2 linked regions of the Homo sapiens genome follow. The protein of the gene in region 2 purifies or fractionates together with the protein of the main gene of each other region. This does not show direct contact. Each region holds a gene or a part of one and is shown on either strand. Other genes may lie near its edges. The genes, in order: STXBP4 and TULP4.

The links.
Region 1: the proteins of TULP4 (region 2) and STXBP4 purify together in Homo sapiens (affinity purification with mass spectrometry; one large-scale study listed by BioGRID and IntAct). This does not show direct contact.

The regions. Positions count from the first base shown.
Region 1 is NC_000017.11:55,167,631-55,171,139, reverse strand, and holds part of STXBP4 (syntaxin-binding protein 4), read right to left. Parts: 3' UTR 1-3,509. UniProt on the Homo sapiens protein: Plays a role in the translocation of transport vesicles from the cytoplasm to the plasma membrane. Inhibits the translocation of SLC2A4 from intracellular vesicles to the plasma membrane by STX4A binding and preventing the interaction between STX4A and VAMP2.
Region 2 is NC_000006.12:158,500,930-158,504,754, reverse strand, and holds part of TULP4 (tubby-related protein 4), read right to left. Parts: intron 3,078-3,825; coding exon 577-3,077; intron 1-576. UniProt on the Homo sapiens protein: May be a substrate-recognition component of a SCF-like ECS (Elongin-Cullin-SOCS-box protein) E3 ubiquitin ligase complex which mediates the ubiquitination and subsequent proteasomal degradation of target proteins.

The sequences.
Region 1 (3,509 bases), on a different chromosome or scaffold from region 2:
AAATCCTAATGATGCATCAACTCTGCTAAAATCCATTGCTGGTTTTACTGCACAAAAGTTTTCAAGGCAGAAAAAAATAGGTCCAGGATCTTTGACAATGGCAAGATAAAGACGGTAAACTTAGATGTCCTGCAGGACTGCTCAACCAATGATACTGCTCTGAGATAAGTTGACATCCATAATCACAGAATTGGCCCCAGTCTTTCTCTGTCATGAAACTTGGCCCTCCCCAGACAATGAAAACATAAATATCACATCTGTGACAACTCTAGCATTTCTAGCAGGAAAAACAAATCCTGAAAAAGCATCAAATGCAGTGAATCTGACCACACAATGGTAAAATAGTTATTTCAATAAAGATTTTCATTTCAAAAAATGAATTTTTTTGTTGTTTCCACAATAATCAATTTAGTTATTGACAATGCAGGTCAGGCCTCATTCATGGCCATAACATAATCTCTGATCTTTCCAGTCCCTACAACACTACAAATTTTCACAGGATTATACATAGAATTCTAAAGCAAAATAATCCTAGAAAATATAAGTGGAAATAAAAATATATAATCAAATCAGATACACTTTTTTCATACACAATAAATCATTAGCATTTTTTCTTATAAAGGACAGGCTCACTGTAGAGTAGTATGCAGAAAAATATAATAAATAAAATAGATATCACAAATAATGTCATCTAATTTTTTTTCAGATCTTCTATGGTGTTTATATATACAATACTGTTGGTTTTATATTGTATACAGATCTGTTTCCTGTTATTACCACTTGATGTTATTATTGTGATACTTTCTTGGTATCATTAAACATTAGTAAACATTTTCTATCATGTTAGATACCATATTTTATTTAGACATTCCCCTGTTTTCAGGAATTTAGGCAATCATTTCTATTTTAAATCATGCTTTAATAAGCCTTTTAAGCATTTTTTTATTTTGGTCTAAACTTGGGGTCATTTGTGAGGATAAATTCACAGAAGAAGAAATTTTTAAGGCCTTTGATAGATGTTCCAAGACTGCTTTCCAGAATGTTTGTGGTGATTTATAGATGTCCTAAGAATATTTGAGGATATCTATGTCATGTACCTGCACTAACATAATTACTGTGTTTTAAAAATACTTTGGTTTTATTGTATCTTAAATAATTAATCAATAATTCTAAGGAAGCCTTATATCATAGGTGAGAAGGTTTGTTTGAAATTGGCAAGGAGCAAGGTACATGAGGGAGTTTGCATTGTCCACAGCCTTAAAGGTTCACTTCACACAGTAAATACTACAAAATTATCTGTCTTGGATTGTTTAGACATTCAATTGCTTGAATGTCCAGGGACAAACCACTTGATCTCTTCTAAGTATTTCATGTTAGGGTTTTTAGAAATAGCTTTTAACACAATTTTGATTGAAATAATTTTTCAGAAAGCCCATTTCACTTGTTAAGGCATTTCATCTTTAGCTGAATTTTAAGTATGCTATGAGATAAACCAGGAACAAGGAGACTTGATTCTCTATACCATATTTTATCGATTCTAAGACACACATTTTTCACATCTAAGCGTCTTTAGTATTTGGATGTATAATAGGCACTGCTAGCACTTTCAGATCCCTCTACCACTCTCATGCATGACAGCTCCCTGTGCTTTCACTCTCAACATTCAGCACCTGCACCTCTTTGTTGGACGGCTGTCCTCAGGCTACAGGAACATGCTTTGACTGCATTGCAGGCTGGAAGCACCTGGAAATTTACACCCACCCCCACCCCCACCCCCATTCAATAACTGATGGTGCAGAGGTATAAATACTCTGGGTTCTCTGGCCTCTGACTTGAACCTACTGTAGAACCTTTTTGTCTCTAGGGCTCTCCCGTGGGAGTGAACCAAAGTCATCTCCAGAATAGGCTTTGCTTGACATCACACTTTTTGTGGGTTTTTTTCCCCCTTTCCTTTGGATCGGTTCTATTTCTCTATTTCCCTATTACTTTTCACCCTTGGGCCACTTCCTAATTCACATAAATCCTTATGTCAGAGGAATTAAACATATTACAGGAAGTGTCTTACAATAATTGATGTCCTGCAGTTACTGTCAGCCAGGTGGTCATAGTGATATGGTTGTCTTTGCCTGTGCATGCATGAATTTGGTTGTTCTTTCCATGATATGACTGGACTGTTACTTCTTTACTTTTTGGTCAATAAACCATTTAAGGACTATTGAGAAGAGTATGAATCCTGATTGTTATCTAAAATTTTTCTATTAAGTCCTTTTGCCAAGATAAAAAATGTGCCAGCATCAGAGTTGTAGAATGGATGTCTAAGACAGGGAAAAAAATCTCAGAGACTGCAGTAGAATATTCCTTTAAGAAATGTTATTTATCCTGATGGCAGAGAGGGTGTTACCGTGAAAAATTGTGGTTTATGACAACTCTGATTCAAAAAAGAGATGCAGAAAGAGTTCAATTCTGAATGTACAGAGCTTTGTAAATATCATAATTAATATTTCATTCTCTTTTACACACATGATTTTTAAAAATCTATGCTGAAACAGTTCTCTTGTATTTACTTAAAGGCGTATAAGATAAAAATTCTAACTACTAAGTCATATTTTAAATCTTTTTTTCATTTTCAGTTACACACAAAATAATGATGGGTCTTATAACTGATGAAATACTAATTGGGAATATGGTACTTATAGAGACAGAAGAAATACAATCAATGAACAGTCTTAATTGGAAAAACTAAGGTAACTTCATAGACTTCTCACTTTCCATTTGTAGAGAGAGTTCTACTGGTAAATGAGGAACCACCAGTATTTGGTCATATTTTTGAAATTGTGTAGATTTTATTAAATATTTCTTATTCCTCCAATACGTGTGTGTGTGTGTGTGTGTGGTGTGTATATACACACAGATATATATATATACACACACACACACACACATATACTAAGTGTATGTGTGTGTATGTATGCATTCTATTTCCTTCAAATTTCCCTTATATCGAGTACTTTTATCAGAGAAGTAATCCATGCATTTAATTTGGTGCCAACTTCTTATTTTTGTGTGGTAATCACCAAAGAAAAATAAAAGCTGGCATTAGATTAAATGCATAGATTACTTCTCTGAATGATAAAACTGCCTAAAGAAATAGAATCTGCTCATAAACATCTTTTCATATTCCATTCCACAGAAATTTCTGACCTTACCTGTCTATATTACCTATTCCTATAAGGTAACTTTATTATCTACTCAATTTGTTTTGTCTTCCTGTTGTCTCTTCTCGTGTGTGCTGATGAAAGATGAATTTCTCCACTGTGAAACAGAACAGTCAAGCAATTCCAGTGGGGTTACTTATAGATGAGATAATTTCTGCAATTTCAGAGTTCTGTGGCAATACATAGCTCCCTTGTGCCAAATCAATTCTTCAGTAACATGATTAATTAACCCATAAGAACAGAAGTTTGCTGCTGCTCTGAAATGCACTAACCTTGTATTTTGGTTTCAGGCTT
Region 2 (3,825 bases):
CTTGAGAGGCTGAGGCAGGAGGATTGCTTGGAACCCAGGAGTTTGAGACCAATCTAGACAACACAGTGAGACTCCCATTTCTAAAAAAAAAAAAATTAGGGCTGGGCGTGGTAGCTCACGCCTGTAATCCCTGCACTTTGAGAGGCCAAGGCGGGCAGATCACGAGGTCAGGAGATCGAGATCATCCTGGCTAACACGGTGAAACCCCATCTCTACTAAAAATACAAAAAAAAAAAAAAAATTAGCCGGGCATGGTGGCGGGCACGTGTAGTCCCAGCTACTCGGGAGGCTGAGGCGGGAGAATGGCGTGAACCCAGGAGGCGTAGCTTGCAGGAAGCCAAGACTGCGCCACTGCACTCCAGCCTGGGCCACAGAGCGAGACGGTCTCAAAAAGAAAAAAAAAAATACAAGACAGCAGTGGGCACACTAAAAACCATAACCCCATGAGCTCCACCTAAGAGGTGTTCGTTGTTTTCCACATTTCCCATTTGGCCTTTTGAAAAATGCTCCTTGAAGGCCGAAGCACTGAAACCCTCGCCTCCTGGGCTCGCAGCGCCACCTGGTCTGAGGTCTTACCTGCCGCCCCTCTAACTCAATCTGGAAGTTCTTGGCGGACTCCTGGGTCACCCGCCCCCCGAAGTCCAGCTGGTAGACCTGGGTGGCCTCGTTCCACAGCGGCTGCTTGTTGGCCATCACGTACACGAAGCCTTGGCTGCCCAGCCGCCCGTCCTCCTTCTCACTGGCCCGCCGGCACTTGGCCTCCTCCAGCTCGCCGGCGGCCCGTGGGGAGCGCTTGCTTTTCCAGCCCTTTCTGCTGCCCTGGCTCTGGTTCATGAGCTCATCCCCGCTGATGAACAGCTCAGGCTCGCTCTCGGAGCTGTCCTGGAACTCGTTTGTCTTATTCAACTTCTTTGACTTCAGTTGGTCTTTCTGACTCTTCACTTTCTTCTTCTCTCTCCCCAGGTGTGGGCTGGAGATTAGGGAATTAAAGTCACTCAAAGTCCTAGCCTCCTTCTTCACTTTGCCCTCAGTGATGGCCTGAACGCTGCCTTCTTCTGCTCGGCTGTCCAGGCGCTTCCGGTTCTTCTTTCCAAATTTTTCTGTCCGCTGGGGGACTGGGCTTTCGGTCAGGGAGAGGACTTCCTGGAAGTTGTCTGCAGTCTCTACCATCACCTCTGTGCCCAAGTGGCTTTGGAGGTCGGCAGGTGGTGGGGACACAAGGGGCTTCTCCACCACCAAGTGTGGCTTTGGGGGGAGAGTGCCCTGGGGGTTCTGCATGGGCGGGCAGGCGCTGTAGGAACTCCATGGATGCAAGGCGACAGGTGGCAGCTGTAAACTAGAGCACGTGCTGCTTCCTGGGTACATGGGGGGCAGGGTGCAATAGGAGAGGCTGGGTGGGTACAGCGGCTGAAGGACCACAGCAGGCTCCTGTTGTGCAAACTGCGTTGGGGACAGGGCATCTTTGGGAGAGCAGGGAGCCTGCACTCCAGGCAAAGGGGGGTTGTTATAGCTTCCTGGATATGGCACTCCCATCCCATAGCCTGTTTGGAAAGTGGCAGTGGGGCTGGCAGGAGACTTGGGGGAGATGAAGGGCAGTCGGGACACGTCCAGGTGCTGGCCCTGACTCAGCATCAGAGAGGACAGTTTTAAGGGGTTGGGCCCTGAAGTCTGTGCTGTCCTTTCTTGAGGAACCCAAACATCCTCACCCAGCATGGGGTCCCACTGGTAAGGGGGTGGCCGTTTCAGGGTGACAGCAGCTTCAGGCAGGGGAGGGTGCCTCAAGGGCTTCTCAAGCTGACAGTGCTGGGACAGGGCCTCGTCCTCCGTGAAGGCCGAGTTGACGTAGTCGGTGCGGTCGCGGGCGCTGTCGGGTGGGCTCAGGAGGCTGTAGGAGGACTGGGAGGCCAACGGGGAGGCGCTGGCGGTATGGGCCAGGGAGGCTCCGGGCTGTGAGCTGGGCCCTGTGCCACTGCACTGACTGCAGGTGTACAGGGCAGGTGGGGGCCGCGCTGGGAGCTGTGTCACCACCCCCCCGGGCCCGCCCTTGGACTTGGCCAGGGGCTGCAGGGGGGCCCGCGGGCTGTCGGCCAGCTGGGCCATCTTGAGCGTAGCCTCACGGTTGTTCCTCCGCAGGGTAGCGTGGATGAGGCTATTGTCGGACCTCTGGGCAGCCCCCCGCCCCTGGGCCAGCTGGCTGGCAATTTCAGGATACGGGGGTGGGTCCCCGGTGGGGATGGAGTAGCGAGGGACGGTCAGGCGGTTCAGGGTGGCACTGCTGCAGGGCTGAGGGACCTTCTTCTCAGTGGCCGTGAGCCTCAAGGTGGCAGAGCTACCCGGGCCGGGGAGGGTGTACGTGTTCTGGGAGCACAGCATCCGGGTGCGGGGCCGGCACACCTCCTCCACGTTGCCACTGCTGTCGAAGGTGGTGATCCTCTCATAGCCCAGGGGGGTCTGGTAGTGCACTGACGTGGGGTAGAGGGAGAAGTCGCCCTTCTTCAAGCACACATCCACTGGGGGCTGTGGGGGCGGCAGAGGGGGCGGGGGTGCTGCTGTGGTGGGGGCAGCGGGGATGGTTCCTGGGTACGGGGGTGGAGGGTTTATCTTCGTCACCTGGACCTCCTGGGGGGCACTAAAGACCACTGCGTCCCCCTCAGCTGCCAGCTGCGGTGTTGGCCGCAGGGCCTTGGCTGACTTCTGCAGGTGTTCGTGGTCTCGGTCTCCATGGCCCACCGTGGACAGCTGCATGGGCCCCTGCGGCGGGGGAGGCAGGGACAGTGGAGGGGGGTTCTGAATGATGCGGCCCATTTCCACGCTTCCGAAAATCACCTGTCCAGGATTGGAGTACCGGTTGGAGACTGGGTACTGGGTGGCACTGTCACCTGCATGTTCTGCTGTCCCTACAGCTGTCGTCTGGTTGGTCAGGACATCTAGCTGCACATTCTGATTGGCCAGTAGGGACTGCACCAGCCCTATGCTCTGCGTGGGGGACATAGCCTGAGCCGAGCTGTGGATCGGTGCAATAGGGATGTTCACGGTACAAGGTGGGCTGTTCTCAGGGACACCAGATGCTCCTGTCACTGGAAGAAAATTAGAAAAAGGAACTGCTTACAAAAACACTGCCATTAAACCAGATCAGGATAAGCAATACGTCTGGACTCATCCAGTCTCCTTCTGTAAACAAAATGCAAATTGCCAGAGACAGAGACGTGTCTGCTTGGGGAAAGCTGGCCTGCTCGCACAAGGGAGATGGGTTCTTGAGGGCAGCCTGCTGCTGTCTGTTAGCTAAGGGTACTGTCAGAACTTTTCGACTAACTCACTTTTGAACCTTCTAAACTTGGCACCAGTGCCTCAATGGCACCATCACAGATAATTAAATGTCTGAAGAAGCTTTTTACTGGTGATATTCATAAAATACCCACCCTTTTATGCAAGAAGAGGGCAATGGTACAGGAAAAACCTCCATTGAGGACTTGCAGTGCCTAGGCCTCTGAATAGGTCTATTCATGATTATGGGATGGATAGTGTGGAAAGTGTCATGCAACAGATGTGTATAAGAAATGTATGCACATTAGGTTTCTGTAAATAGAACCATGTAAAATGTGGTAGAAAAAACAATGAAAAGAATCTTCTAGTGAATCTGAGTATCATATGAAGGATCATTTCCTAATTTTTTTTTTTTTAAGACAGAGTCTTGCTCTGTTGCCCAGGCGTGCAGTAGCAGGAGTTCAGCTCACTGCAACCTCCACCTCCTGGGTTCAAGTGATTCTCCTGCGTTCAAGTGATTCTCCTGCCTCAGCCTCCCCAGTAGCTGGGACTGCAGGTGAG